Regions from separate parts of the Homo sapiens genome. Here regions 1 and 2 are each linked to region 3. The links come from fine-mapping of genetic effects on gene expression. A gene starts in region 3. Each other region holds a variant in brackets. All regions are shown on one strand. Distances are from middle to middle.

Region 1 (8,000 bases), 97 kb before region 3:
CTGAGGCGGGTGGACCACTTGAGGTCAGGAGTTTGAGACCAACCTGGCCAACATGGTGAAACCCCGTCTCTACTGAAGAAACAAAAATTACTCAGGCATGGTGGCTCATGCCTGTAATCCCAGCTACTTGGGAGGCTGAGGCATGAGAATTGCTTGAGCCTGGGAGGCGAAGGTTGCAGTGAGCCGAGATCGTGCCATTATACTCCAGGCTGGGAAACAGAGCAAGACTCTGTCTCAAAATAAATAAATAAATAACAATATTTACTAAAATTATGAACTAATTAAAACATATACCTATAGTAGGGTACAAATATATATGTGTGTGTGTGTGTGTGTGTGTGTATACACATATATACTTTCCTAACAAAATTTTAAATACATTTAGTTATCATGATTGAAAGCATTTATATGAAAATATGTGATAATTGTTTACCTGGAGGCATTATGTGAGAAATTCTTCATTTCTTTTACTCAAATTCCTACCATCTTCCTATTTTATATTTATAAATGGTAAAAGATATATTTATGAAAAGAAAGCCTTACAGTATAAAACAAATATTAATTCACTCAGTAATATCTCCTCATAGGTTTCTGTTGTAATAATAGAAATGTTCCATGGGGCAAAACATAATTTTAGGGTCCAAGAAAAAAGGTAAAGTTTTAAAGTCATGCTTAAAAGAGAAAGAAAAATGAAACCATTTATACTCCAAACACATCATAAAATATGACTTAAACAGACAGAAACTTCACAGAACCCAAATCCCACCAGAAAGTAGGCTCTCTGCTACAATGTAATAATGTCCACTGATTCCATGGTTCTTTTCCTTTCAGCTATTTAAAAGGTAATCCCTTTTAAAGCCCTGACCTTTTAGCTATTACTTCAAAGGGGAACCAGCATTTATGCTTTCTCTTAACAGTTTATCTACATTTGTTACAACTGTGGAAAGTTGTTAGAACATTCAGTAAATTCCCCATGGTCGGCTTCTTTTTCTTCCTTTACATTATAGTCCATTTAAGGTTGGGTTAAGAGATTACAGTAACAAATGTATGTATTTTGTGTTACATCAGTTTATTCAGAATTTCCCCAACGTATAATGCTGCAGTGGTGCTCATTCCAAATCCAGTTGTAGAACCAGGCTAACTTGGAATTGTTTTTACAGCTTTCCAAAGGATATAAAATGCACTTATGAATAACTGTTAAGTAGAATAACTTAACAGCACTCTAAGTTCCTACTGGTCTTTGTTTTGTTTGAAACTGAGCAGTAGCTTTGAATAAACTAAAAAGGCAAGAGAAAGGGGGGAAGGCCTCATTTTCTAGTTGTTCTTTAATGGAATGAAAAATAAGTATACTGAGCAACCGATGCAGTGATCTGAAATAGCTCTAAAACAAAATGGGTGACTGTGGATGAATTTGCCTTCTACAAGGAAAACAAAGAAAACTTTAGGCCAAATATCTTTAGACATCACTTCTATTAGAAAGCCAGGTCATCTAAACTATTTCAAAAATTTCTTCCAATTGCTAAAAATGCAACACGTTATTTCATACAATACTTTTCCTTACTATATTTATAAACCAGTATGTGAATTTGGTATAGTAAATCTGTACATTTATTATTATTATGCTCATTTATAGGCTTAGAATATACTTTTACTTCCAATTGTATTCATAATTTTTAAATTTTAAACATTTTCTGGCAATTCAAGTTTCATTTATCTGGTGCTAAGTCTCCAAGAAGTAATTGCAGAATTGTGCTTAAAAGATAATTAGGCCAATTTAGAGATTATTTCCAAAAATAAATTTGGCAAAGGGTAGGAACCACATAAGGCAAAGGGTACACACACATGATTTTCTACAGTAAGATTTTTTAAAACTTTCAAACTTCAACAGATCCCTATACTATAGACATCAAGTCCAAAGTTTTCTGGTTGAATTTACTGGCTGACCTCCCGTAGGAGAGTCTTCCCTGGCTGTTTGCTTGGCTAACTTTCAACACATCTAGGTCTGAGCTCAAATTGCCTGCTAGTTCTTGATTACTTGCATGATTATCAAAAGAAAGATGAAAAGTGGGATTCATAAAATCCCTAAGTCCTGATTTTAGCTATGAGCTTTTACTTTACCAGATTTGCAAAAAAGCAAAACAATCAGTTCAATTTAATGTAATTTTTAAGTGATCAGCAATGTCAGCAAGGAAAGAAAAGCAAAAGATCGCAAGGATTCAAAGCCTATATAATTGAGAAGTAATTATAGTACACGTGGCAGACTAGAACTTATACTTTTATATCACTTTTACGCTATATTTTTCCTATAAAGTACATCCTCATTTTTAAATGTAATATAAGGACCTCAATGTCTTAAGTCAATATTTATATGTGGCCTCCTTAAATTTTGAAGAGTAATGCAAAAATAAGAATATACATGGTTTATAAAAATTTTCAGTTTAATTATATAATTACTTTTCCAAAATAAAAGAGCAATACTCTTTTTCCACATACCTGCATTAAGACAGTTATAATTCCCTTCAATAATGTAAATATTGTTCAGTCACATCCAGATGTACATGTTTTTTCTTTTCCTCCTAAAAGTTATCTCACCTTGCACTTTGGACACTTCTGGGCATTCCTCTGCCCATGCTCAATTTCGCTGGCCCAGTGACGCAACAATTTGTCTCCTTTTTTGTACTCCTTGCAGTTAACACCTTCATGCCAAGGAGAGTGGCACTTAAAACACCAGACGAATTGGCAGGTAGGGCACTGGATCTGTGTAAGAAAAAAATCATATTAATTACTAGTGGATATACTGAAAGTGTCTAAAAGGATAAGAAGGTGATGCTTGGGGAAATTAGCTAAAAGTTTATAATTTAAAATACCTCCCCCTCTATAAGACTCAAACTACAGGAAGATATGAATACTCTGTTACTACAGGAAAGAATTGCTTTGGCAAGGATGACTTGGCTATTTGTAGGCTGTACTGGAGTTAAACATTTGGTTCTGGAAACCAATTTAGCTTTAAGAAAATCTCCCAGATTTAAGTGCAGTCTCCCAGATTGAACCTGAAGGCTCACAAGGCCCCAAATCCACACACTCAGGCTGCCCTTTAATTCACCTTTCCTTTGAACGAATTACCCAGCCATTTCCATTGTCTTCTTAAGAATGGCTTATTTCATTTTATTTTTAAAAAGCCCCACAGATGCTTCATCAAATAAAAAACACAGTAGCAGTCTGGGTGTGGTGGCTTATGCCTGTAATCCTAGCACTTTGGGAGGCTGAGGCGGCTAGATCACTTGAGGTCAGGAGTTAAAGCCCAGCCTGGCCAACATGGTGAAACCCCATCTCTAC[G/T]AAAAATATAAAAATTAGGTGGGCATGTTGGTGCATGCTTGTAATCCCAGCTACTCAGGAGGATGACACGAGACATGACAATCACTTGAACCCAGGAGGCGGAGGTTGCAGTCGAGCCGAGATTGTGCCACTGCACTCCAGCATGGGCGACAGAGAGAGACCATCTCAAAACAACAACAACAACAATAAAAACACAGTAACAAACAAACTGCTAGAACAGCATTTGCTATGAAGCAGCATTTAAAATAATGGATACTCCTGGTTTGCTACCAACGTAAGGCAGGCTAATTATAAAAACAATGCAAAGCATTCTATTATTAGAAATATATCAATATAGTGGCCCTGTGGCCTGTACTTAGAAAACCGTCAGAAACGGGCCTTCATATTTCACTATGTGGAGGGGTATATGACAGTGCACGTGTAAGTTTAATATGAATATCTGTCTTCCACTTGACATGGAGGATATTTTATCTGACTTCCTTTATTTTGAATGATAGTGGAATATTCCACTCATACACATTATTTCCACTCCTAACTCTCTAAAAGCATATGGGTATAACCTGACTTACAGAGCCCCATGTGATTACAATGGATTAATAAAATGTCTCATTATGAATGATATTTATAACTGACCACTCTCTTTGCTCCTCTATGTCACGTCACTGCAGCATGTGTGAATTCACTGACTACATTTTAAAGGTTAGTTAGAATTTCCTTTTTGGAAAACAACTTTTTTGACAATGGAGGTTCTACTATATAGACTAATTAGCTGAGTGGCAATTACAATCACAGCTCTTCTGTTAATAACTCAAAGCACTGTAATTTTCACTTATGTCAAGAATGGATAATGCTCCTCTTGTGCAACTATGAAGTAAAAGTACTTTTGTTATTAACTTTATATAAAAATGGTATTCTGTCATAAGGCTTAAAAGATTTTCACGTTTATTTATTTATTAAAATTCTGTTCAATGATAATGTCTATGTTGAATATATTACATGCATTATTTATTTTCATCCTCAAAATAATGCTGGAAGGTAGATATGAACATCATCAGTTTACAGATGATGGAAATGAGACTCAGATAGATTAAATAACTTGCTGAAGGTAACACAGCACATATGTGTTAAGAAGGAATTTAAACGTAAGTTTGTCTGGCTCCAAGTTTAGCATAATTTTCACTATAGTCTTATACTAAACGGCATTTGTTCTTTGACAATTGACAACTTAAAATGTAGTAGTCAAAGATGGTCATATCATTAAACTATTCAATAAGTCAGAATTCCACATGATTACCAAGATAAGGTGAACTTTGAAAATTCTTTTCAAGATCTACTTATATAAATTGAGAAACTACTTGGTTTAAGTAAAAAAATGAAAAAAGAAAAAAAGGATGTTACTCTTTAGTTATTTAAAATAACTGTTTTCCTTTTTGATCATTACAATTAAAATAAATCATTTTTAAAAGAAAACAAGTTGAAGTAGATGAGATTCAGCTAAGAAAACAATATAAAATGTTTACTTCCATTTGCCATTGAGCAATGAAGACTAGATGTAAATATCACATGGAGCCTTCCTTTCCAATATAATGAATGAAATGAGGAAAGAAGGAAAAAAATTGCTTTTCCTTATGCATCTAACATTAAGTCAGAACACCTGAAAAGTTAATTCGGTTATCTTCTATTGGACATTATTCATAATTCTGAATCACTAGATTCTAGCATCATTAAATGAACTTTTTGAAAAGATCTCTCTAGTTTTTAATCAGTCTTAGATTATATTTATGAAATATTAGAATGAATGTAAAGATGCTTTGAAACTCGGATTCGCTCTATAAATGTCAGACATTTAATGACTCAAAGATCTTTGTGATTAAGTGCTGAACTATCACATTTGTGAATCTCTAATGAAGACAATTATAGCAATGCATGATTCTCCTAAGGCATCAGAATAATAAAGAATCTGACGCTTTGTGTCCAAACCAGGGACTCTGGCTCATAATAAACAACCAAGTCCTACTGCAGATCCTATTGCAAATCCTCACCAACAGCACAGACTTAGTGGGAAACTGTGACCAGAGTTATGGGGCAGTCTCTCAAGTGAATACAAATAAGTTAAACTCATACTGGATTGCTTACTATCTCTCACTGAAAACATCAGAATCACTCTTTATTTGCTTTGGATTAAAACCATAAAAGGACTAATAGCCAACTCCAACAACTTTGGTATTAAAAGACTACATCTGAAATTGTCCCAGATTTTTTGTTCTGAAGATGCCTCATTCATTTTGAACTTAACCATATTCAAAATTGGCCTTACGCAAACACATACAGACATCAACACTGCATCTTCCTCCACTCTTTTATTTACAGTTATTCTTCCACATGAAATGCTATCTCACAACCACATACCCACCACATGGAGTGCCTGCCTTCTTAGTAATTACAGTCACACAGAAATCATCATGCCCTGTCCTTGTGGCTCAAAGTGTGGTTGCAGGGCCAGAAACATCAGCATCACCTGAGAACTTGTTGGAAACACAGAATTCATGAATCCTTAGACCTCAGAGCCAAAAGTGCACATTTTCACAAGGTCCGAAGGTGATTTGTATGCATCCTAAAGTTTGAGAGGCACTGCTCTATACCATGTGACTGCATCGCCCAGGCCACAATTTATTGGACCAGGAATGAGTCCCTAAGCCAAAAACATGTATCCACTAGTTGGCAAGCTGCCTAAGCGGTGGCATGAGCTTTGTGTAGCATGGGTGCTCATTGTTGAATGGAAATTAGCCAAGATAGATTTTTCTCTCTTGAGGAGTGTCATAGAGATACAAAGGATGCCTTCATGGAGGCAAAGACAGAGAAGAGCTAAATGACTACAATGCAGACCACTGGAGAAGGACACAGACATTGACTTCTGGTGAGATGACAGAAGGGCTCTCACACTACCAGAGCTTGTGTCTGATTCTCTATGAGGCCTGCCTGGGCAGCTGCAGAGAGTATTTTCCTGCCCTTCCTGCTCCCCATGGAGCCTTAGACTAAACCTCACTAATTGAGGTAGCCCAAGAAACAGTACATTTCTGCTTCTGGTAACTGGAAGAGTCCAGTGGATTAAACCTATTAAAATCTTATCTTGATCAAATGCTCCTTTCTTCAAGATGTCTTCCCTATTTCTTGCAACCAGATTCAGTACCTTTCTTATGGAACTTCCATTAGGGATGTAGATGTCTAATCTCTCCAACAGCCCACAAGTTCACTCCTCAGTGAACTGTGTTTGTCAAAGGCTTTGTCTCATGTAAAATGAATGATTTTACACACAGTTTAGGTATCACGTATCAGTTAACATTAAATGAATTCAAAGAAAAACCAACATATCTAATTTATGACTAGTGGCTGAGGTAGTATTACTAATTCCTATATTATCAGATGATGTTTACTAAATACATTGTCCTAATGAACTTTTACTAAGCACTATGATCAACGCACAAACTCTTCTAAAAGAGGCAAGCAGGGCTTCAAGTGCTTCAAGAATAAAGTTATCAGAGCTAAGAATCTTAATTAGCTTTCTCCAGAACTCACAAAAGATAAAAGAACCTTACATTAGATTTTTGACTTTTGAATACCCTTAGTTTTACCAGAAATCTGTGCTATACTGAGATGAAAGTACGCCGACTCACCTGCCCTAAGAAAATGGCATTTTCTCCTGATAATTCATCAAGTCGAGTAAGGAAACAACCCACAAAATAAAAACAGTGTCTAAAACTAAAGAAAACCCCAGATCATTATTTTCCTGCCTAAATTCTAGATACCCCTATACACATCATTATTTTAAATAAATCACAAAATCATTACTTATCAAATTCAAAATATTAGACAACATCCATGTGTAAAGTAGCACTGCAAATATAAGAGCTGATTCAGTTTTCCAAAAAGGATTTGCTTTACTAGAACCTCAGGTTCAGATTCTCAATAATGAAGCACATGTATCAATTCATTTTCCCATCCAACACATATTTATTGGGCACCTTCAAGTAGCAGGAACTGCTTATGTTGATTGTAGGCAGAAAAAAATGAAAATACTTGTCCTTAAGGAACTTACTGGGGTCTGACAGATATAAACCAAAAGAGCTATAAAGGCATATAGTAACTGCCAGAATAGAAGCTGGGACAAGTGAGTGCCATGGAAAGAGGCTTCAGTGAAGCTGGAACATAAGCGTTCAGAGAGAATGTGGCCTTCAACAATGAGTAGAATGTTACAGGGACAAGTGATGAGGTAACACTTTGAATAGAGGGTCCATCCTGAGCCACCACACAGAGGCCCAAGAGCACATGATATATTGGGGAAACAGCAAGTGTTCTAATGTAGCCTGAACAGAGATGTCACTTCAGCTAGCTCAACCCTGATCCTTGCTAAGTGTACAATAAATGGAGCCAGTAAGTTCCTATAATCCTGGCATGTCCCCCAAAATATACCATGGTCCAGAAACTCTGCATAGGAAACATGTAAAAATCATGGCTGTCAGATTCGGGTATGTCCTAAAGAAACTAACCAAAATGGTAAATAATTGGGAAATCTTGTAGTTATAAAAATGTTTTAAAAACTGAAGATGCTTTTCTTGAAGATGAGATGTGGAGAGGTACAGCATGTTATAGAGAGGAGAAAATGA
Region 2 (8,000 bases), 34 kb before region 3:
ATGCCGGAGTCAGGCAGACATTCAGGATTCAACATGGAAATTTTGGAGTCACCGTCACATAAGAACAGGTAAGGACAGTTCAAGCGGTGGGATCAGTAAGGTCAAAGGGATACTACAGGATGAAAAAATTAAAAGCAAGGCAGATATTGGAGAAATACATTAAGTTAGTAGAGTCTAGAAAAGCCTTTGAGGGAGAGACAACTAAAGGTGAGAAAGTAAAGAAAACAAGCAAGGGAAAGTGTTCAGGGCTGTAGAGAGAGCGAGCAGATTAAAGATGCAGGATTTACCCTGAAACTAGTGTCCAGGTATCTCATCGCCACAGGCTGTTTCCAAGGACCTATGAATGTGCTCAATGCGTCAGATGTTTTTGCAGGAGTGAGAGATTTAACTGTAATTGGTTAAGACCCCTGTCACTTTCCACTCTGACTTGCCCTTCATCAATGTGTCTGCTGTCATTACTACAGCTATGAGTGAACATTTTTCGGATTTGCCTAAGAAGTATTTGAGATGGGAATATATTAACTCGAGTTGTGTGAACCTGTCTATGTGATTTACAGTCACTTTCGCATATGGTTAAGTAATTGGCAGAGCCCTAGGGTAGGAATGATTTCCAGGAATATCTTCCATCCTTTTGTGCTGACTTACCTGGAGTCATGACTTAAGCACCAGGATTGTAATACAACATGTTCTATAAAGCTCAGGGTGGGGAACATGCGAGTAGTGAAGCAGCCATACATGCAAATACATGGAGCCGTGAACTCTTCTATAGAAAAATCCTTTCAATCATCACACAGAACATTTTAAACAGAGGATTCTCTTTTCTATGCCTGGTCAAAACAGAAATTCTCTTCTCATCAGTTTAACAAATGAATACACACCGGACCAAAACAGAAAATAAATTCTTTTTTGACAGAAATGATGAAAAAATAGACTCTACCAGCACGTCCGTGTTTGTAGAACCTAAACTTGCAGGAGTGCTACAAACAAGTCTGTGTGAAGAGGAACATATTTTATGCATCTCCACTGTCAATACTAAACCATATTAAGATGATTTAAAGAAAATACGGATCATTTTTATACTCCAACTTTCAAAATTACATTACAAAATTTTCATTATACAAAGGTAATCAGGCTTTATATAGTAAAAAATAGATAAGTAATATAAAGATATACAAGGCAGTTAAGAGGAATGTTATATTTTAAAACTGCAATATTTGTAGTATTTGGTAGCTTTTAAAATTTGTAATTGTTGTGACTTATAGTCTCATTGTAATCATTTACTTTTGCATCTAACTTTATATTCATAACTTAGTCTTAAAGAGTATGCTCACACTGTATATGCTTCAGGTTACACAAAACTTGACTCTTCCCCTCATTATGAAGTTTGCCTTCAAGAGCCAATGTCAACAGAGCTGTGGGGACAGAATTCAGATTGCAATGGATTAAAGATAATTAAAACTCTTCATAAAAGACATCATAAAAATAGAAAAAGAAAACCATGAATTGGTAGAAGATATCCACAACACACATTTAACTAACAAAAGATTAGTATTGAGGGTATAAAAAATAGAACTCCTATCAATCAGTAAGAGACAACCCAAGAAACAGAAAAATGGGCTAAAGATAAGAAAAAGCACATCAGAGAAAACATAAATTATCTTCAAAAATTAAAAAAATCTTCAAAATTAAAAATCTTCAAAAATAAAAAAAGCTCAAGCTAATTATAAATGAGGGTAATGAACACACAAAATCATGAGATGTTTATTCATACCCTGCAGACTGGCAAAACACTTAAATATACGATGAAGTACTGTTGAGGTTATGGAGCAATGGGAACTTTCATCAGCTGTGGAGCGAGTATCAACTGGCACAACCACTTTGGAAAACAATTTGGCAATACCAAGCCAGGTTAAAGATTCATGGCCTTGTGAAGCAACAAAACCTTTCCCAGATTTAAAAAATCTGGAAAAATTCCTATACATGTACATAGTCTGTAAGAGAAATAGAAAAAAAAAACCCAGAAATATTCCAAATGTTTTTCTTTTCTTGATTCTTTTTCTTTTTTGAGACAAGAGTCTTGCTCATCACCCAGGCTGGAGTGCAATGACACGATCTCGGCTCACTGCAACCTCCACCTCCTGGGTTCACATGATTCTCCTAGCTCAGCTTCCCGAGTAGCTGGGATTACAGAAGTCCATCACCACGCCCAGCTAATTTTTGTAATTTTAGTAGAGATGGGGTTTTGCCATGTTGGTCAGGCTGGTCTCGAACTCCTGACCTCAGGTGATCCACCCACCTCGACCTCCCAAAGTGCTGGGATTACAGGCATGAGCCACAGCACCCGCCCTCCAAATGTTTTTCAATAGGCAAAGTGTAAGTAAATCGGGTTATATTCATACAACAAACTCCAAAACAACAATGAAAAATGAACAAATTGCTGTCTCATATAAAAGAATCTCAAAATGTTAACTTTGAATAAAGTAAAAGTCCTATAAAAAACATACAAAGAATGTTTTCATTTTTATAAAAGTGATTAAAAATGTGCACAACTAAGCAACAGTGTTTAGGGATGCATACATTTGTAATGAAACTAAATTAATAAATAATTCAATAAAATCCAGGACATTGTTTAGCTCTGAATCAGAGTGCACAGTGTGTTTTGGATGGCACCAGGATGGCCTTCAATATTGTTACTGTTCTATTTTTTATGTGAGCTTTCATTTTATTATTGTTTTTAAAACTATAACCATGTGTTATATTCTTTTGTATGTATAATATTTCACAAAATAAAATCTGTAAAAGAGATTAGAGGCAATAAAAGTACACTAACTTTTAATAAAATATGGATGAAGAAGGTGGTGGTATAAATAACTGACAAACCACAAACATCTCCCTACTCAAGGGTACAAATATAGTCAACAATGAGAAATAATCTTGTTTTAATTTTTCTTAATAGAACTATAAATTATCCTTAGGTTAATACTTGGATACGTAACATCCCATTTTTACACAATATTAGTAGCCTGAATTTACAAAGTTGTCTATTCCTGGATCATAAAAAATTCTCGTAGTATACCTCAACTTTCTCAGTACTATCTCTTTTAGATGGTAAGCTCCAAATCCCAGAGCCTGCCAACAGTCAGCCACGGAGCTATAAAATTCAGGCTCAAGTAACAGGTGTACAGTTTTTCAAGTATAATTCTTACTCCTAAAAAAGATGAAAG[C/A]ATAGTTGGAAATATAATGCCATACAACTGCCTAAAGTAGCACTTACTAGCACAAAAGAAAACACTTGGGCAGCTCAGGATGTAGTAGTTTGAGGATATATACAAAAAGCAGGTTGTAGAAACTTTTGTATCTACCTAACATCATGCTAGTAACTAACTTTTTTTTCTCCAATTTGGGAGCAGCAAAGCAGCTGTGTATGGGAGAAAACAGATTCACACATCTGAAGTCAGAAGTCTGGACAGTCTTAGTTATTTCACTTACAAGTTTGTGAAGTCTACCATTCATGAGGCAACTGGAAATTTGAACACTGACTAGATATATAATGATATTAAGAAATGATTATTATTTAGGTGTAATTATGTCTCCGTTCAAAAGAATAAGTCCTCACTTTAGGGAGATACATACTGAAAGACTTGCAGATGAAATCACGTCAGGATTTTGCTTCAAAATAAGGAAGGGAAGGGGAAGTGAGTGGGAATAGATACGCAACAAAATAGTTCATAAGTCACTAATTGTTGTGGTTGTGTGACAGGCACATGGGGTTAGACTATTCTGCCTATATTTTAAAAATATGTTTAAACATTTATAAAACAAAAAGATACACACACATCCCTTATATACATATTTTTTTTTCTCTAGGCTAATATTTTAAAATTCCATTTTCTTCTAAACTTGCTTTTTCCTCTTCCTTCCATCATGACCCCTTCCCTCTTTCCAGTCCCTTCTCCACACTCCAGCCAGAGTAATTTGTTTTCTCAAATGCAAAATGTTGTTTCAATGACTTTCAATCACTGCCCACTACCTGCAGAATAAAGGCCTCAATTCCTTGTCATAGATTAATGGCTCGAATTCCCACTCACCTCTCCAGAGGATCTCCTGCTTCTACTGAGCCACTGCAATTCACTGAAGAAGTATGCTCTTTCAGCTGTGGCACTCTTAGCCCTGACACACTCTTTACGCAGCCCCTTCTTTATCTGGCTAACTCCTACTTACCCTTAGATCTCATCTGAGGCCTCACTATTCCTTACAAAACTCTCCCTGACAAACAGCTGGCCTACCCGGCCTTCCTATGTGCCGCCCAGCACCTGCACCTAGCTCTAATGTAGCACCTACTACACTGTAAGACAGGTGATTTTACTTATATATCTACCCGAATAGGCTACAATTCCCTGACTTAAAAACATGTCAGGTTCACCTTTGCACTGCCAAGATCTGGAATAGTGCGTGCCACAACTAGAAAGCCCTCAGTGAATATTTGCGCAACTGAGGAATGATCTTATTCTCTCATATTTCCTAAGCCTCTTCATCAAAGAAAGGAAAACCTAACCAAAGTTTGGTTAACAGATGGGCTAATGATAATAATTTTAGTGGAAAGGACGGGAGGGGAGGAGAAGATCTAATATTTACTTGTAATTACTATCTGCCAGTTATTGTTCTAGGCACTCTATTTATATTGTTCGCTTAGTCAGAAAACCCAAGATACTTGTAAAAATACAGATTCCTGGGACACATCCCAGAATTACTAAATCAGAATTTCTTGGGGCAAGACCTCAGGAATCTATTTTTTAATAGATGCCTCATGCGTTTCTGATAGTAAGTCAACTTTAGGCATAACTGGCCAGCAGTAGAGACCAAAAGAAAGTTCATATATCAAGTATATTTTACTATTTGAACTCAATTATTACAAAATGTTTTATTTGATTATGCTCTATAAATTTGCCAATAATACTACTATAGGCAAGAGCACTGACAGTTGTTTCTCAGTCTATAAAATGAACAAATATTCTATTACATTGGAAAATTTAGACAGCTTCATGGCAATGTCTTTTTCTGATATCTAAATGTAACATCATCAAAGACATAAATCGTTTTAGGTAAAAGATGAGTGGTCATCTGCATAAGCAACTAAGGATAAATTTATTAAATTTATTTAAAGTAAATTTATTACATTTACTAACTAGTAATTTATTAAAGTAATCCAATTACTTTACAATTAGAATTTGACAAAAAAAATCATTACAACAAAGAATGTTCTGCTAAAGAATTATTCTTTACAAAATTTGGAACAGAAAAATTCAATGTACTTTTATCATTCAAAAGATAGTACCATACTTTCCAAGATCAAATCCACATTCTGAAACAAAATGGAACAAGTCAATTTCAACAAGAAAAACCTCCCCTCTTCTCACTATTCTAAACTTTTATTATATAATACACTAGAACAAGCTAACCGAATCCAGTATCTTGCTATAGATGTTAGCAGAACAGCCATTACATCTACACAGCATTAGAAATATAAACCACAAACCAGCCTATGTCAAGTACATTCTTAAAATCAATGTTCTATAGCCTCTTAGTTTCTTATTTTCTCCTGCTTGACTATTATTTATCAAGTTTTCATTTGGGAATAGAAAACATGTTTTAATATATGTAGCTTTGTACAAAACCAGTATTTAAGGTTTCACCTAGTTTTATTAGGAAACATTATTCTAATTACAAAACATACCTTTGCGGTAAAAATGAATACATGTCCTACTTAAAATGTTAAAAGGAGTTATTCCTTAATATTTTAGAGCATTCTACAGCCTTGCTACTCAAAGTGTGATGCTGCAGGTCAGCATTACTGGCATTACTTTGTAGCTTGTTTGAATTGTAAAAGTATAGGCCCCATCTCAGGCTTAGTAAATCAGAATTTGCAATGTTAACAAGATCCCCAGGGCATTTATATGAGAAGGAATACTCTGTAATTTTCATAAATCATTTGAGTCCCCTGGGTTCAATATCAGTCATGGACTAATGACCTGTATGACCTTGGGGAATCCATGGGCCCAGGGCTGTCTAATAGAGCTTTCTGGTATGACAGAAAAGTGCTATACCTGAGTGGTCAAATACAGCAGCCACTGAACACAAGAGCCCTTAAAAGTTGCTACTAGGACTGAGGAACTAAATCTTTACTTAATTTTAATTTACATTTGAATAGTACCATGTGGCTATTAGCACAGGTTTAGAAACTATTTATAACATAAAATCCCTTCCAGCTCTAAAATCTTACAATTCTAGATATAGAAAAAATGATTTACAAAATTGTCTTCAAGATACTATTTAAAACAAATGTCTGTTGATCACCTACTACATGTCAAGCACTCAGGCCTCATGAATCAACAAAACCAAACAAAATTCTTATCCTCATGGCCTACAGCCTTGCGGGGAGAAAAAGACAACAAAAATGAATATAATAAATAAAACACATCATTATTAGAAGATAATAAAGCCATGAAAAAATACAGCAGATTAAACAAGGAAGAAGAATGCTGGTATGGGGGGGATGAGGGTTGGTAGCATGTATACATGGGTTGCTAAAAGAAGGCCACTAGGAGAAATTGATATTTGAGCACAGACTGGAAACAGATTAAGAGCTAGCCATGTAAATATTATGGGAAAGATGAACAGCTACTGGAAAGGTCCTAATGCAGACATGGGTTTGATGTGAGAAAGAGCAAAGAGTCCGAGAAGCTGGTTCTGAGTGAGCAATGGCAGGAGGAATAGAAAATGGAGTCAGAGAGGTCAGAAAGGAAACAGGGTGGGGGAACAGAGTCATGGATCACACAGGGAATTGCAGGCCACTGCAAGATCTTTGGCCTTTACTCTGAGGAGACATTGTAAAAGAGCAACATGTCAGGTCTTACATTTTTAAATGATCTCTCTGGCTTCACTGTGTCACCCAGGCTTTGCAGTGGTGTGATCTTGGCTCACTGCAACCTCAAAATCCTGGGGTCATGTGATCTTCCCACCTCCCTCTCGGGTAGCTAGGACTACAGGAATGAGCTACTGTGCCCAGCTAATTATTTATTTTTATTTTTGTAGAGATGGGGTCTTGCTTTGTTGCTCAGGCTGGTCTCGAACTCCTGGCCTCAAGTAATCCTCCCACCTCAGCCTCTCAAAGTGCTGGGATTACGGACGTAAGCCACCATGCCCAATTTGGCTTCACTCTTGAGATCACTCTACAAAGGTACTAGGGCAGGGAGAATAGTTAAGATTTTACTGCTAGATTCCTGGTGAGAATGATGGTGGCATGGTTCACAGTGGTAGCAGGGGAAATGGTGAGAAGTGGCTCAATTCTGGTTATATTTTAAAGGTAGATCTAACAATCACACATGAAAAATAAGAATGTGCTATGACAGAAAGAAGAGTCAGAGTTTATTCCAAAGTTCTGGTCTAAGCAACTGGAAAAATGGAATGGCCATCAACTGAAATGGTGAAAACTATAAATAAAACAGGTTTACAGGGAAATATAAAAGAACTGAGTTTTTGAGATGTCAAATTTGAGATATCTCTTATAAAATCAATTGCAGATATATTACATAGATGTATAAACAAGTCTGGAGTTCCATGAAACTGTCTGAGCTCGGGATATAAATTAGAAAGCCAGTGGCAGATACAGAATACTTACCAGAAATTGGATAAGATAATAAGAGTAGTGAGCATACATAGAGAAGATAAAAGGACCAAGACTTATAAGAGTTAAAACAAAAGTTAAGAAGTAATTCAGAAGGAGATTAATTAACAACAAATCATAAAATAAATATCCAGTGTGGAATGAAGAAAATGAAGACTATGGTGTCCTTGAAGTCAAGTGAAGAAAGTATTTCAAGGAGGATAGAGTGATAAATTGTGTCAGATACTTACAAAAGCAGTTACAGTGGAGAGGTAGAGGCAAAGCTTGATTGAAATGGGTTCAAGAGAAAATGGAAAGAAAGGAAATAAGAGATGGGAGT
Region 3 (11,070 bases):
TCATCTTTTTGTTGCTGTTTATTATTTTAAATAATGTATATTCTTCTTTTTTTTTGAGAGGAGTCTCACTCTGTTGCCCAGGCTGGAGTGCAATCATGTGATCTTGGCTCACTGCAACCTCTGCCTCCTGGGTTCAAGTGATTCTTCTGCCTCAGCCTTCCAAGTAGCTGGGATTACAGGCATGCGCCACCATGCCCAGCTAATTTTGTATTTTTAGTAGAGACGGGGTTTCACCATGTTGGTCAGGCTGGTCTTGAACTCCCGATCTCAGGTGATCCACCTGCCTCAGCCTCCCAAAGTGCTGGGATTACAGGCGTGAGCCACCGCACCCGGCCAATAATGTGTATTATTATTTATTGAAAGTCCCAGCAAATACTTTGGAAGAAGGTCAGGCACATACATACAATCAGAAATGCTGCAGACAAGCTTCAGATACTGTGTCACTGCAGAGGAGTTTTTAGTGGTTGTACTGTACACTGCAATGACCACTTGACTATGTCCCTCTGTCTCCCTACTACCATTACTAAAACTTCCTAAAACTAACTTATGAGGTTTAATAAAGAAAAAGAAAACTGCTTTGGGGAAAGGGCCCACCATAAGGAAATCAAACTGCTAGGTAAAGTACCCCAAGCCACAATGACTACCTCCCTTGAATTTCTGGAATGTGTATCCAGCATTTAACAGGAAGTGCTATCTGGAATTGTTACTCTATTGACATCTCATCCCATGCTACCTTGTATTGTTCTTTTGTACACATCTGCTCTCACAGTGACTTCCCTGGAGGCGGGCTTATATTTTGGAAATGTCTGAATCCCATCGCAGGGCAGCGAAATCTGTTTTGAGGATGATGATACAGAAACTACCACAACCAGCAGCAGACATTCCTCCTGTTTTAAGAATCTCTGTAGATAAAGCATGAAAGAAACAACAGTCTCTCAGAGGCTTTTAAATAATCCCAACTATTTTAGCCAACTTACTGTTTATGTAACATACCGTTTTAAGTCTTTGTTTGCATTTTTAGTTAGGGACTGTACACACTTTCAGTCTAGACCCAAGCATGAGTTAGCCAAAAAACATAGAGGAATCACATGGTACGGAGCCCTGTTCAGTTTGTCCCAGCCAATGTTATTAAAAACACTATGATGGGCAAGGGACTCAACATGAAGCTACCACATATGGGACTCTAAGACATTGTCCAGACAGTCTAACAAGACAAGCAGACACGAAAGAAACAACTTCAGTGCATGTAAGATAATATAAGATACTGTGAAAGTATATAAGCAGTGACTTGGAGGGTGAGGCAACGCTTCACAGAAGAGTTGGCACCTGAACACACAGGGTTTTGAAAGATGAATAGGCCTAGGACAATTGGACACAGGATCAAAGGGCATCCAGGATTGTGCAAAACACTGGCAGAAACATCACAGATTGAAAACTGCTGGAAGAACGCATTCACCGTCAGTGAAGGAAAGCTGGTCTGGTGCACTCTCAAGCTTTCCAAGAAAAAAAACCAAGTTTTCAAATAAAAGCAGAGGAGGAAAGTTTCACCAGTGCTTGTTCTGAGAAACCTCTTAGCCTCTCTTTGCTTTGTTTTGCTCTTTCTGTTTTGCTTCCCTCTTAAAGAGTGCTGGCTTAAAACCTCAGTGAAAGAAAAGTACTTCAACTTTACTGTGGAAAAAGGAAACTGAAAAGTAGGCAAAGGCCAAGGGATACATTTTTTTAAACATTCACTCTTTCCTGGAATATACAAATGAAGCAAAATTACAAATTCATGTATTATGGGTCTGAAATATTTATTCCAATTCTTTTCTCCACCAGCTCCATAAATATTTATTCTATGCCCACTGCTTGTTAGTTTCTGGGATACCAGGCCGATGAGGCAGTCTCTTCCTCTCCTCCTTTGAGCAAGCTTGTGCTTGCAATCCTGTATAAGAAATAAGAGGAGGGCAACAACTTGTATCTTGTGCCTTCTACACATGCCAACCATAGCCTGAAGTTCACAGCAAAGTTAAATTCCAGTTAAGTAAACCAGTGAGGTCATAATACACTTAAATAACAACTGAGACGTGAGAAACTAACAGAGATCCTCAGTAAGTGTGTCGGTCACCTCTTCGCGCGAGCAGGGAGATCAGATCGAGAGCAGGACCTCCTCGCCAGTGATTTGGAATGATAAATGGGGAAGAGAAGGGGGTGAAGTTACCTGGGCGCTCAGGTAGACTTTGAGGCACTCCTCGCACACGGCCTTCTTGCAGCAAGGCAGGGGCTTGATGGGCTTGTCTTCCAGGCACACCCGGCACATCAGCACCATGAGGGGCACATAGGGATCCCCTACACCGCCCAGGCCAGAGTAGGGTGGAGCTCCCAACAGGCTGGGCATGGAGAACGGCTCGGGCGCCAGGTAGAACTCCAGCTCGATGCTGCCGCCGTCGGGGGAGAGGGAATCCGTTGGGAGGGACAGTCGGGGGCTGGGGAAGGAAGAGCGGGTGCTGGGAGGGTTCAACACTGGCGGAGCCCCAGGTGGCGACGCGGGCGGCGAGAGCTGCTCCGAGGCGGGGGCCTCGGGCAGGTCGCTCTCCACGCAGTACACGGAGCAGAAGACTTGTCTCTTGGCGAGGGACGGGCGCCGCTGACCCAGCACGTCCAGGACCAGTCCGTCGGCGGCCCCCACGCGGGTCCTGGGCTCCAGCTCTTCGCCGGGGGGCGCCTCCTGCTGTTCATCCCCTCCCTCTTTTCGATCCCCAGCTTCCTCCTCTTCCTCCTCCAGCTCCAACTGCAGTGGCAAGGTCTGGGGATTGAGAGGCCCGGTGAGTGCCAGTCCCGCAGGCTGCGCCGGTGCTCGGCTCTTACTCCAGCCCGGGGGCCCCAGGCTCCTCGCGGGCTCTGGGGCGCTGGTGTCCGCGCAGCCCCAGTCGCTTCCGCAGCCACCGCCGCTCGGCTCCGCGGAGGCGGCGCGCAGCGGGGGCGCCCGGGCGCTGTCCCCCTGAGGCCTCGGGGGCTCAGGGTGGCCCGCAGTGCCACTGGCCAGGGTCTGCGACTCCTGGGGCCCGCCGCCGCCGCTCACCGTGCTCTGCTCCTCGCCCATCGCCGCCCGCGGCCCGCGCCGCCGCTGCCCATCCAGCCGCCGGGACCCCCACCCGGCGCCCGCGGGCAGCGGGGGCAGTGGCTCGGCTCGACTCGCGGCTCCGCTTCTGCTTCCGGGTCCTTCCTCCTGGGCTGGGACGCCCCAAGTCCCCTCCGGGGAGCCCGTGCTCCGAGGCTGCGGCGCGTGGGGAGCCTGGCCCGGCCCGCCGCTCCTCCTCGTACTCTGGCGCGGCGGGGCACCGCCTCGGGGGCGCCGAGGGCCGCTCGCTCTGGGCTCGGGCGCGCCCGCCCCACATGCAGCTCGGGGCGGCGCCGCAGCCCCAGCGAGCCCCAGGCGGGACAGAGGGGTCTGGGAGGAGACGGCCGTCAGTCCCGCGCCATCACCGGTCCCGGCTGCCGGACGCGCGGCCCGAGGGCGGTGGTCAAAGGGTCGAGGGGCCTGTGGCGCCGCCGCGGCGCGCACCAGGAGGTGCAGCCGGAGCGCTGGCCAGCCGCAGGGCCCCTGGGGGAGAGGCCGGAGCGGGCGACCTCCCTCTCCCCGCGCTTCACCTACAGCCCTCCTCGCCGCCCCTCACCCCACCCCTTTGGCGCACACCTCCCCACACGTACACACGCGCGCAGGCACCCGCGCACACACACACGCACACCCTGAGTGGGTGTGATCTAAGAGCTGAGATGCGCTTTCTCGCCCGGAGTTCACACTCAGCCTCAACAAAACCCTCAGAGCAGGCAGGCTCCCCTTTGGTCTCCGCATTCAGTAGAACTTCCTACAAAACTACACTCAGCTCTGGAATTAGTAAACGCTGGCTATTTAGGATGTCGAGTTCAGAGAAATAATGCTAAGGATTATGAATTCTAAATGCTGTATATTACAACTCTGTTTTTCTGCCTAGTGGAGTAGGAAGAATCTTCGAAACCCATAAATAATCGAAAAAGCACTTTCGATCTACTCCTCCAACTGGAATCCTTAGAAGAGTTGATAACTAATTTAAAATTTCTCTCTTTTTCTTCGCCTACAGTGTTCTCTTAGAAGTTTTTTTTTTTAACCCTTTTCAGCATTCCAAAATGGATAGCACAAGGTGGAAAAATGTCCTGACCTAATTAATAAACTGGATCATTAGTGGAAATCATGGGCAGTTTCATTAGCATAACCATATTTATCCTCAAAACTGTTTCCAAAACAACAATTATATGTGAGCCAGGACTTAATTATGTGTTGATCTATCTTTATTTTACAGGAAGTATTACTCACCCAGACACTGGTGTTTTAGTTCCCTAAAGCCAGTGAAAACATTTTTGGGAAGCCAGCCCTTGTTTTGTTTTTTTTCTCCTGAGAGGGAATTCAATTTACACATTCATGTAATAGCAAGGAACTGTAAAGTGTGTAGAATTTTATTTTTTAATCTCGAAGTTGTTATTGGGTTGTTCTAAAATATTTTCCAAATCAGATGCAAATGATACAAAGGTGACTAGCGATGCAAACTAAGAAAGCAGTGTAATGCCAAAGAACATTTCCATCATATATGTGTGTCTGAGGCTCAGTTGCAAGCAAAGGTATGAATTGGATGTCTAAATGCCATGTCATCTATCGGTCTGACCCAAGAATGGAAAATTCTTATTTTGAAGATTAAATGCTATTCGAGGATTCTTTTCTTTTTTATCTCAGCTAAGTGATTTCCTGGTAACTGCTGTTTTCTCCAAATGATACTTTAAGTGCTTATTGTTTTAAAGACAGAGACAAGAAACCTACTTATGTGTGCCTTTTGAGTGTGCCATCTGATGACCAAGCCACTATTCTTTCCAGAGATATAAAAGTAATCTGCATTTTCCAGGTGACAACAGGCTAAGACCAGAGTAACAATAATGGATGCCAAAAAGTATATTCCCACAGCGTCTATTGGAATAAAACCCCTCAAAGTCCTCTTATAGTTTTGGGAACCCCTCCTCACACACATTTTTCACTCGTATTCTGAGAACTTGTTCTTCCAGTGTTTACCATTTTATTCCTTATCCCTTAGGTTCCAGCTTACTGGAAGTGGCTGTCCTCTACACCAAACCCATTAGAAGTCCCTGCTGGGACTCATGATGGCCGCCCATATCTCTGCTGCTTAAAACTGCAGCCCTTTATTTTGCCATGACTTCTTCCCTACAGAATTCATTGGGCCTTTGTGAAAATAGAATAATATGTGGTTCCCTATTTCCACCCTCCAAATTGGCCCAAACTTGCCTGAATCCTTGACCCACCACCCCTGGCATTCAATCTAGTGCTCATGGGACTCCAGCAGCATGGAAGTGAATTAAATTGAAAAGTTAACATCGTGGTTCCACAATGAATTTTCTCTGAAGTGCATGAAGCACCAGTAATGATTGTTTCGATGGGATTAATTATTTAAAGAAGGATTGGTTGAAAATATTTTATTAACCAATATTTAATATTTTAGCAAAAATTCCATTTATCTGCCACAAGCTTAATATTCTCAAAACTCAAACCATCTGCTCCATCTCAGGTTGTACACAACTGTTGATACAACGTAAGTACTATCACTAATATCCTGCTCCTACCAACATAAAGCCTCAAAATGTCCTAATCTGCAGTGAACTGTGTACCTTCCCTAAAATCCAGACTTCAATATCAGAAAACTATGTCAGTTTTAGAATGCTGTTTTTTCTATTATTGCCTTTCTTATCCTGGCATTAAAACATGACTTCTTTTTGGCTCCCTTCAATTTTTTTAAATCATTTTTATTAATGCATAATATTTGAACATATTTGTGGGATATATGTGATATTTTGATATATGCATACCATGTGTGATGATCAAATAAAGGTACACAGGATATTCATCACCTTGAACAGTTATCATTTCTTTGTGTTGGAAACATTTCAAATATTCTCTTCTAGCTGTTTTAAAATATACAATATATAGCTATAGTCAGCCTACTGTGCTATTGAACACTAGAACTTAGTCCTTCTATCTAAGTATATGTTTGTATACATATAACCAACTTCTCTTCATCTGCCCCTGTGTTTCCAGCCTCTGGGAACTATCATTCTCCTTTCTACTTCCATGAGATCAACTTTTTAAACTCCCATATATCAAGAACATGTGATATTTGTCTTTCTGTGCCTGCCTTATTTCACTTAACATAATGATCTCTAGTGCCATCCATGTTGCTGTAAATGACAAAATTTCATTTTTTATGGCTAAATAGTATTTTATTGAATATACATACCATATTTTCTTTATCCATTCATCTGTTGATAGACACTTAGGTTGATTCCATATCAACCTCTTGTAAATAGTGCTATAATAAATATAGGGGTGCAGATGTCACTTTGATTTACTGATTTCCTTTCCTGCTACTGGATAAATACCCAGTAATGAGATTGCTGGATCATATGGTAGTTATATTTTTAGTTTTTTGAGAAACTTCCAGACTATTTTCTATAATGACTATACATATTTATGTTCCCATCAAGAGTGTATAAAATTTCCCTCTTCTATGCATCCTGGCCACCTTTTGTTATTTTTTGTCTTTTTGATAATAGTCATTCTAACTGTGGTAAGATGATGTCTCATTGTGGTTTTGATCTGCATTTCTCTGGTGATTGATGATGCTGGGCATTTTTTAAATAAACTTGTTAGCCATTTGTATGACTTCTTTTGAGAAAGAAAGTCTATATAAAAGAAAGTCTTTTGAGTTGATTTTTGTGATCAACTGTGTGAGTGATAGGTGTCTAGTTTCATTCTTATGCATAGGGATTTCCAGTTTTCTCGGCATCATTTATTGAAGAGAATGTCTTTTCCCCAATGTTTATTCTTGGCACCTTTGTTGGAAATTAGTTGGCCATAAATATGTGGACTTAATAATATTTCTGGATTCTCTATTTTGTTTCATTGGTCTATGAGTCTGTCTGTTTTTATACAGACTTTCTTTTATACAGACAAGAAATGTCTGTTAATGTCCTTTGCCCAATTTTTAGTGCAATTATTATATATATTATACTGTTGAGTTTTTTGAGTTCCTTGTATATTCTGGGTATTAGTCCCTTGTGGGATGAATAGTTTGCAAATATTTCCTCCCATTCTGCAGTTTGTGTCTTTGCTCTCTTGATTGTTTCCTTTGCTGTGCATAAGTGTTTTAGTTTGCTCTAATCCCATTTGTCTATTTTTCCCTTTGTTGTCTTTGTTTTTGCAGTCTTAGTCATAAAATTATTGCCTAGACCAATCTCCTACAGCATTTCCCTTATGGCTTCTTGTAGTAGTTTTATAATTTCAGGATTTACATTTGTATTTAATCCTTTTTGAGTTGATTTTTGTATATGGTGAGTCATAGGGATCTAGTATTATTATTCTGTATATGGTGAGTGATAGGGATCTAGTTTTATTATTCTGTATATGGATTTCCAGTTTTCTCAGCACCATTTATTGAAGAGGGTGTCCTTTCCACAGTGTTTATTCTTAGTGCCTTTGTTGAAAAATCAGTTGGCTGTAAATATGCAGACTTATTTCTGGATCTCTATTCTGCTTCATTGGTCTAGAGTCTGTGTTTATAACACTACCATGCTGGTTTGGTTGCTATGGCATTGTAATATAATTTGAAGTCAGGTAGTGTGACGCTTTCAGCTTTGTTCTTTTTGCTCGGCATTGCTTTGGATACTTGGGCTCTTTTTCTGTTCCATTTGAATTTTATGTTTTTTTCTCTATTTCCATGAAAAATAACGTTAGTATTTTGATAGAGATTGCATTGAATTTGTAGATTGCTTTAGGTAATATGGTCATTTTAACGATGTTTGTTCTCCTTATCCATGAGCATGGGATGTCTGTCCATTTGTTTGTGTCCTCTTTAGTTTCTTTCATCAGTGTTTCACAGATTTTTTTCTAGAGATCTTTTATCATCTTGGTTAAATGTATTCATAGGTATTTTATTTATTTATTTATTTTTAAATATTGCAAACAGGATTATCTTCTTGATTTCTTTCTCAGCTACTTCATTATTGTTGTTCAGAAGTGCTACTGATCTGTGTATGTTGGTTTTGTATCCTATAACTTTGCTGAATTTATCTATCATAACTAGGAGTTTCTTTGATGCCTTTACTCATCTCTTCTCCTTCAGGAACACCCAAAATTTGAATATTTGGTCACTTCTTTGTCTCATATGTTATGTAGGCTTTGTTCTTTTTTATTCTTTTTTGTTTTTTGTCTGATGGGATTATCACAAAAGGCATCTTCAAGTTCAGAAATTCTTTTTTCTGCTTGACTTAGTGGATTTTGAAGCTCTACATTGTATTTCTTATTTCATTCATTGACTTATTCAGTTTTGGATTTCTGTTGGTCCTTTTCTATGATATCTCTTTGTTGAGTTTTTCATTCAGATCATGAACTGTTTTTTCTGATTTGTTTGTGTTTTTAAATCTATGTCCTTTTGTATCTCACCGAGCTTCTTTAATTTCATTATTTTGAATTCGTTTTCAGTCAATTGATTTCTTTTTTGTTGGAATCTGTTGCTGAAGAATTATTATGTTCCTTTGGAGGTGTCATGTTTCCTTGCCTTTTCATGTTTCTTGCATCCTTGCATTGATACGTGCACATGTCATGTAACAGTCACTTCTTAATTTTTTGGATTGGCTTTTGTAAGGAAAGACTTTTTCCTATAGATGTGTCTATGGTGTTGGTTGGGTAGGGCACTTTAGCTTTGATTCTGGGTGTGTGTAGTTTCTGTATGATTTCTTCAGCTGTAATCAGCATCAGTGGTATTTTTGAGTTTTCCTCAGTGACTTAGGTTGCAATTGTTAGTGGAGGATATGGTGAGGCTATTTTGGGATGGGAGACACCAGTTGGGTAGGTTATTGAGCTCTGATGGTGATGGTGGTGGCAGGACAATTGGGCCCATCCTTGGGCCCCCAGGTGTATACACCGTTACTGGTATTTGCAAGTCCAGGCAGGCAGCCAGGCAGCTTGCTTAGGTTCCAACAGTGGCAGAGGTGGGTCAAGCAAGTGGGCATGTCCATAGGCCCCTTGGTGGCATGTGTGGTATGGACAATGACAGTAACAGTGACAGGCCAATACTCAGGCCCTCATGCACTACTGGTGGTTGCACATTGGTGGGTGGCAGCCTTTGTGGTAGTGGCAGGCTGGGAGGACCCATCCTCAAGCCCCCAGGAGAATTGCACAGACATCAGTAATGGCAGACTGTGTAATCAATCCCTAGGCCCCCAGATGACACGTGCAAGTACTGACAGGCCTCGCACCAGGCAGGACTGTTCTGTCCTCAGGCCCCAGGTGTTACACGTGGGTGCAGGCTGTGGTGGGTGGGACTGTTCAATTCTCAGGCTCCCAGTTTATTTGCACAGGTGTTGGCAGGCTGGGCAGGCCTGTCCTCAGGCCTCTGGAAAGCATGCATAGACACTGGTGGCAGCAAATGAGGTGCGTCAATTCCAAGGCCCCCAGAGAGCATGCTTTGGCACGATTGGCAGGTAGGCTGGGTCTGTCGTTAGGCCCAGCTGGCAATGACAAACCTACTGATGTTGTGTGCATATGCCAATGGTTCAGGCAGGGCAGGTCAATCTCCAGGACTGCAGATGGCACACCTGAGCACTGGAAAGCATGATGCCAAGCATGGCAGGCCTGTCCTTGGGTCCCCAATAGTGTACGCGTGCACAGGCTGTAGTGTGTGAGGCGGGGCAATCCCCAGTGTCCCAGACAGCCTGCATAGGCACCAGTGGTAGGTAGACTGGCTCTGCTGTTAGGCCCCCTGATAACGCATTCATATAGCAGAAGCAGCAGGCAGGGTGGGTTGGTCCCCAAGCCTTCAGCTGTTGTGCTTGGGTGATAGCAGCAGTGAGTAAGACTGGCCTGTCCTCAGGCCCTTGGATGACATCTGCCTGGACCAGTCACCAGGTCCATTGAAGGCACATACATGTGCATGGTGGCCCTTCTGCTGGGGTGACTGGGCTGGCTGTCAGTGGCAGTGGTGTTCTTCAGGCTCTGGGGAGTGCACATTTTGCCTTACTTCTTCCTGGGTGCATCCTCCCCAGTGTGCTGCACTGCCTGTTCCCCGGGGTGTAAGACTCTGCATGGGCTAGAGGGCTTGGAACGCAGCAGCACCATTAGGTTCAGCCAGCGTCTCCGTGTTGCAGCGCTCTGGGTTGTCATGGGGGATTATCAATATTGGCAGGGTTCCAGGAATGTGAAGATGCAGGGCTTTTGGGCCCCAGGGCAGGATGTAGGCTAGTGGGGGCTCTCAAAATAGCACCACGCTGCTTGGGTCTGGGGAATGTGTTAGACCCAGCAAGAGCTCCCATCTGGAACAGTTGTGTTGCAAGGACCCCAGGCAGCTCCCTATACTATTCTCAGTTCTCAGGACTGCAGGAGTCTACTTCTAGGGATCTCTCCCTTACCCTTTCCCCACACTGGGGAGCCTCTTTTGGCTCCTCTCAGGTCCCAGCTGGGCCAGCTGCCTTGTTTCTCTCTCCTTCCATGCCTCAGATATTCCATGTCACTTCCTTGCTGAATTCCAGTGTTCTCTCTTCGATGCTGTATTCGATCTATGTTTATCTACTTACTGTTTTCCTCCTTCTCTGTGGAGGAGATGAGTGCTGGGTGCCTCTAGTTAGCCATTTTGAACTGTCTGAAATTTTTTATCCAGACGTTAAAGAGTTGAGATTTATTAACTCATTAAAAATGTTATGTTATATCAGAAAAACTATGACTCATTTTAGTTTTACATATCAAAGCCAAAACTAATTTCTTCTAAACTATTGTGGAGAAAAAATACATAATATTTAAATGCCATGAAACAATTACAGCAAATACCTGACTTGTTTTTCTACCAATCTCTCAATTATCAAAATAGGTATAAAAATATAGAAATAATTTAATTTAAAAAATCAATTCCTGAAAAGCAATGTCTGTGGTGGAATTTTTTCTACGTCTGCTTCTGAAAGTTGTAGTGTGATGTTCATCCTGCCTTTCCTATTTCTTCCCTC

Alleles and levels. Positions count from the first base shown, and alleles are read on the strand shown. Sizes are in standard deviations (SD) of each study's normalised expression. Not every link is listed here.
With allele A in place of C in region 2, the expression in skeletal muscle of the gene that starts at base 3,190 in region 3 is lower (large effect, 0.93 SD a copy in FUSION).

Evidence for each region. PIP is the estimated chance that this variant, and not a neighbour inherited with it, causes the effect.
Region 1: its variant is fine-mapped to the expression of RNF217 in skeletal muscle (GTEx, PIP 0.93).
Region 2: its variant is fine-mapped to the expression of RNF217 in skeletal muscle (FUSION, PIP 0.95).

Annotation. Positions count from the first base shown.
Region 1 is chr6:125,052,699-125,060,698 of GRCh38, reverse strand. RNF217 (ring finger protein 217) reads right to left here. Exons shown (of 6, transcript NM_001286398.3): 3 at 2,593-2,757. Among named protein-coding and RNA genes, the nearest start is that of RNF217-AS1, 94 kb to the right of the region's middle. The variant G/T (reference allele first, on the strand shown) is at 3,337.
Region 2 is chr6:124,989,987-124,997,986 of GRCh38, reverse strand. All of the region lies in intron 1 of RNF217 (ring finger protein 217), which reads right to left. Among named protein-coding and RNA genes, the nearest start is that of RNF217-AS1, 31 kb to the right of the region's middle. The variant C/A (reference allele first, on the strand shown) is at 3,225.
Region 3 is chr6:124,954,557-124,965,626 of GRCh38, reverse strand. It overlaps RNF217 (ring finger protein 217), which reads right to left and starts at 3,190. Exons shown (of 6, transcript NM_001286398.3): 1 at 2,201-3,190. The coding sequence starts at 3,082. RNF217-AS1 (RNF217 antisense RNA 1) reads left to right here and starts at 2,600. Exons shown (of 7, transcript NR_026876.1): 1 at 2,600-2,804. RefSeq lists enhancers at 9,136-9,724, 9,725-10,314.